Regions from separate parts of the Homo sapiens genome. Here region 1 is linked to region 2. The links come from fine-mapping of genetic effects on gene expression. Tissue or cell type: caudate. Region 2 holds a variant in brackets; the other region holds the start of a gene. All regions are shown on one strand. Distances are between the middles of the regions.

What was found. PIP is the estimated chance that this variant, and not a neighbour inherited with it, causes the effect.
Region 1: it holds the start of MIR3659HG, and the variant in region 2 is fine-mapped to the expression of MIR3659HG in caudate (GTEx, PIP 0.98).

What each region holds. Positions count from the first base shown.
Region 1 is chr1:38,046,075-38,048,679 of GRCh38, reverse strand. It overlaps MIR3659HG (MIR3659 host gene), which reads right to left and starts at 1,546. Exons shown (of 5, transcript NR_168386.1): 1 at 1,066-1,546. It overlaps POU3F1 (POU class 3 homeobox 1), which reads left to right and starts at 1,887. Exons shown (of 1, transcript NM_002699.4): 1 at 1,887-2,605. The coding sequence starts at 1,937. RefSeq lists enhancers at 583-1,083, 1,084-1,584 and a silencer at 1,497-1,826.
Region 2 is chr1:38,113,253-38,116,008 of GRCh38, reverse strand. All of the region lies in intron 4 of MIR3659HG (MIR3659 host gene), which reads right to left. Among named protein-coding and RNA genes, the nearest start is that of MIR3659, 25 kb to the right of the region's middle. RefSeq lists enhancers at 1-60, 1,171-2,036. The variant C/G (reference allele first, on the strand shown) is at 1,044.

The DNA.
Region 1 (2,605 bases), 67 kb after region 2:
GCCAGAGTCCAGGAAAGCCCAGTATCTCTAGCTCGGTTCAGACACAGAGCTCCATCGCAGCTCTTACAGCTAGGGTGGGACCACGGAGCCTGCTCAGGACAGTGGCCAATGGCAGGATAAGGGCCCTGCTCTGTCCCACTCCTTCCCTGGCTGGTCCTAGGGCATTCAGGGCCCACATGATCAAAGTCTGTGCCCAGGGTGACCCCTGTCACTGTCAACTCTGTCCCAGCCGCCCTGGATCGTTCCAATGGCAGCTGCCACCTGAGCCCCCAGCAACTTTTTTCAATCTAAGGATTTATTCCACAGACCTGATTTGCCCAGTGGGGCCCTAGGTGGGCCCCCAGCTCAGTTCTGTGATCTGGGACCCCAGGGCCCTGTAAGCTATAAATCCACTTGAGGCTAGATCCAGGAGAGAAAAGAGGGAGGACTGGCAGCTGAAGACTCCCTGGGACCCAAGCCTCGGTGTGGGGAAGAGGAGAAAACACAGCTCAGTACCCTCAGCCTGGGGCCCAAGGTCGGGTAAGAAGGCACAAAGGAACTGCAGTGAGGTCCGACTCCACTCAAGATCCTTCAGGGAGTCCTCAAGGGCTGGGGCGTGAGGAGGTAGCTAAATTCCACTGCCCACCTTTCCAACAAGGCCTCCTCAATCTCAATTCCCTTTTCAGCAGCTCCAGGCAAGTCCGGGCAAACTCTAGCCCAGGGCTCTTAGCGAGGCTGGACAGCTCCCGGCCTGCACGCCGGATTTCTGGAGAGCCCGAGCCCCTTCCCTGAGCCCATCCTTCTCCTCTCCCGGGGCGTGATCCCACCACGACCACAGCCGATGAGCCGTTCAAGCTGGGAGAAGGAGCGAGAAGGCTGCAGCGGCGCAGGTCAGATACCCCTGGGCCCAACGTCCACCCCCAACTAGCGCCCTTGCCAGCAGCGTTTTCCCCGGAGCCACAGTCTCCACCTCGAGATCTTCTCCTTCTGGAACCCCGGAGCGCGGCCGGGTACCAGGGGCTCGCGTAGGACTGTAGAACCGCTGCCGCCCGCCGTCCCAGCCCCAGCTGCCCGCGCGGTACTCACCTGGGCCTCAGTGCCCGGGAGAAGGTGTGCCCGCGCGAGGCGTGAAGCCAGAGTCCGTCCGACTCCGCCCGCACCGGACGCGCTCTCAGGGCAGAGGAGGTCGGCGGAGTTGTGACGCTGGGACTAGAGGAAGGAGAAGGAAAGCCGAGACGGGCCGGGCAGACGCGCCGAGGAGCGCCCAGTGCACGCTGGCAGCCGCGGGAGGCGAGGCGGGCGCGGTGAGCAGTCGCGCCGGAACCGAGCCGCGAATCCGCGCCGCCTCGCGCTCGCAGCCGCCAGGACCCGCGGGAATCCTGGTCCGCCGGCAGCGGTACTGAGGAGGGAGGGGCGCGGGGCTGAGCCGCTTCTCGGAGCCCGAGCGCCTCCCGGAGCCGGCAATCCCTGCTGCCCGGGCGGGATGCGGGCGGGAATTCAGCTCGCGTGGAATGTGGGACCGGCCGGGCTCGGAGTCTCCAGCGCTGGGGGAAAGCGGGGCCCACACAGCCAGGACGAGAGGGGGTGCGGTCCCAGGGCCACCCCCGCGCCACTCCCCACGTGGCGGCCGCGCCCCCGGGGCGTGAGTGTGTACGCGGACGGTAGGGGGGCCGTGAATGAAGCCCCAGCGGCCAATCAGCACGGCCGGCGCGCGGGACCCCGGGAGCGACGCCCAATGGAGAGCTCTGGGCGGCCGGGCAGGGTGGCGGGCGGGCGCGCGGGGCGGGGGCCGGGCAGGGGAGGCGGGAGGCAGCTCCGCGGGCAGCCAATGGGCGGCGGGCGGGGTGGGGCTCCGGAGCGCCGAGCGGGTCGGGGCTTTAAGCCGGCGGAGCGAGGCGGCGGGGCCCGCAGACGGAGCGGAGCGGCGGCGGCGGCGCGGCGCAGGGCGCGGGGCGGCATGGCCACCACCGCGCAGTACCTGCCGCGGGGCCCCGGTGGCGGAGCCGGGGGCACCGGGCCGCTTATGCACCCGGACGCCGCGGCGGCGGCGGCGGCGGCGGCGGCCGCGGAGCGATTGCATGCAGGGGCCGCGTACCGCGAAGTGCAGAAGCTGATGCACCACGAGTGGCTGGGCGCGGGCGCGGGCCACCCCGTGGGCCTAGCGCACCCCCAGTGGCTACCCACGGGAGGAGGCGGCGGCGGCGATTGGGCCGGCGGCCCGCACCTAGAACACGGCAAGGCAGGCGGCGGCGGCACCGGCCGAGCCGACGACGGCGGCGGCGGCGGAGGTTTCCACGCGCGCCTGGTGCACCAGGGGGCGGCCCACGCGGGCGCGGCATGGGCGCAGGGCAGCACAGCGCACCACTTGGGCCCGGCCATGTCGCCCTCGCCCGGGGCCAGCGGGGGCCACCAGCCCCAGCCGCTCGGGCTGTACGCGCAGGCGGCCTACCCGGGGGGCGGCGGCGGCGGCCTGGCCGGGATGCTGGCGGCGGGCGGTGGCGGCGCGGGGCCGGGCCTGCACCACGCGCTGCACGAGGATGGCCACGAGGCGCAGCTGGAGCCGTCGCCGCCGCCGCATCTGGGCGCCCACGGACACGCACACGGACATGCACACGCGGGCGGCCTG
Region 2 (2,756 bases):
GCTGGCTCTTGCCACTGAAGCATGGGCCGCTGAGGAAAGAGGAGATTTGGAAGACAGCTCCTTGGCTCAGGCCTGCAAGGTGCTCTCAAAGGGGGTCAGGCAAGATGGCCCGCCCGCCTCGCTCCCTCCCCCAGGGCTGAGGGGTGGGCAGGGAGAATGGGTGAGCCTAATGCTGCTATTTTGATTAGATGAAACAAGGAGGGGGGGAATATAAAGTAATTTCAGGACGCTCTGTGCTGGGAAACCTTCTGTTCACGTCCTCGGATAGAATCTGTAACACTTGCAAAGGGGGAAACGTCCCCCTCCACCTTCCTGGAGAGGAAAAGGTTTGGGAGGAAATGGAGGTCAGGGAAACACACCCTAACACACACACTCACACACACACACATGCACACTCTCTCTTTCTCTCCTCCAGACTCTCATTTTACACACACCTACAATTCACTTAATAGACGTACACACTCGCATACACGTCTGGGCCCCCCAGGAACACCCGTATTTACACACGATATCCCCAGTCCCCCCAAAGGTACACACGCAACGCGAACTGGAGAGGCACATTCGCACATATGCAAGCATTCCCAGACTTCCCGCGACACACACATTCACGCCCTTACACATACAGACACACACTCAGACACTTGAACATAGATGTAGGCACACAGACTCACTTAAGCTGTGCGTAAATATTTACATACACACACACAAGACGTGCTCACGCAAGCACATCCTTGCTAAGACCACATTTCCTGGCAAATTCTGGTAATTCTGACCCCTCTGCCAGAGTTCTTGGTGCCTCTTTGGGAAGAGACAAAGGAAACTAGGGACCTGTCCTTCCTAGAAAGGGAGTAATGTGTCCCCAAGGAATTGGACCCCAAACAAGGATTATTTCTTTCCCCGGAAAGCCAATGACTAGCAAATGCTCCAGTGCCTTCTGGGCTTCCACCTAGAGCTTGGAGCAGGATCTGGGTGGGCCTTGACAAACGGGAGAGCAGAGCGGGAGAAGATGTATTGGTGGGTCCCAGGCCATGAATTGCAGGAAA[C/G]CATCATTGCCTGAGAATTTCCATGTTGACCTCAGAGGCCAGTGTGGAATGGGGTGGCGTGAGCTGCTGTACCTTCATCCCTGAAGGCCCCAAGAGGCCAAGCTCAAAGAAGCTCCAGACTCCCAAAGCTTCCCAGGATCTAGGGCCCAGGGGCTGGACACTGGAGCTTAGAGGCACAGGGTCAGGACCAAACTCCTCAACCACTGTTCCCATTCCCCAGCACCTCCTCCCCAGTGCCTGCATCTCAAAAGGCAAGCTAAATGGCTCTGTATTTGTAAATTAAATATAGCTGCACTTCAGCTTTCCAAAGAGCTGGGAAGGAGAGAAGGAGAAAGAAAAAGAGAGAGAGGAAGAGAAGAAAAGCTGCCGCCCTCAGGAAAGTCTGGCTGGTACAGATTGCCTGAGTCATGAATATTCATCTGGCGAATGAGGAGAGCGGGAGTTTGCATAACAGCTCCACCCACCCAACTGAAAGAAATGTCACCGCCTTTGCCAATAAAGTGCCAAAGGAAGCCGGTGGAGGCTGCCAGCCAGACGGTGCCAAACTGCTGACTTCCACTCTAAGGCGTGGAGAAAGCACATTGTTTCCGGCCCAAGGAGCCGCCACTTGGGGCTGGGGGAATGAAGCTGGCTTCTGGGAGAGAACCAAGAGGAAAAGTTTCACTTGCCACCCACAGGAAGCCTGGTGGGCAGAGCGCCTAGGCCACAGCCCTCCCTAGGGCCCCTCTGAAGACAGGCTCAAAGCTGACTCTTCCAGGGCACCCACCCTGGCCAACCACCAAGGGCCCAGGTTCCAGGCTGGCTCCAGCTGCGAGCCCCATGCTCAGGACTGCCTTAAAGAAACCTCAAGAGGATCCTCATGAGTCCCAGGTTGTTACTAGGGACCAGGAAGCAAGGGGACAAACCAGATGTCACTTTGGGGCCTGGAAGTTTTCCTTGGCCCCATTTTGCAGAAGGGATCACCAACTGCAGGGTCATACACACTTCCAAGGCCCAATCCTACTATCTCTTATTCCAAGACATCTTCCCAGATTCCCTGTCACCAAGACAGAGTCAGTCTCTGTGTCCTCTGCACACCCCAGTCCTGATAGCTTCCTTTGATCCCAGCCCTTTCTGGCCCATGACTGCTTCCTCCCCTGACCTGTGAGCTTAGAGAGTGGGCTCTTCCTGATTGATCGGCCTCAGTGCCCCAGCCCAACATGAGATTCAGAGAAAGCACCTTGAGCAATTCGTTGAGCAGAGTCGATTCTTCCATGCGTTCCCCTCCCCATGCCTGTACCTGGCTCTGGATCTGTCCTTTCTTGGAATCGTGCTTGTCAAGTCCCTGGGAGGAGAGGCATTCCATCCCGGCAGCTCACTTTGGGCCCACTGAGATCAGGACTGAAGCCGAGCAGCTGGCCTCCCATCCTCAGCACCCTACTCCCCATGAAGAGCACGGACAGGCTCCAGCTCCCGTGGCACCCCATCCTCATGGCGGCACCCATTAGGTGGTGTCACAAATGCGCCTGCCTGCCCGCCAGCCTTCCACAGCTGGCTCCCTCCAGTAATTACCTAAATGAATGGGAGAAGCAGAGCTGAAGAGAAGACGTTCTCTTAGTACAGAAAAGCAATTAGGGCTGTGGGCGTCTCCAGCTGCTGCTCCTGTTATGTAAAGTTTGGGATGTGTATTTGGGACTTAATGAGGATATTCGTGTGTTCACATCTTACCTTCGC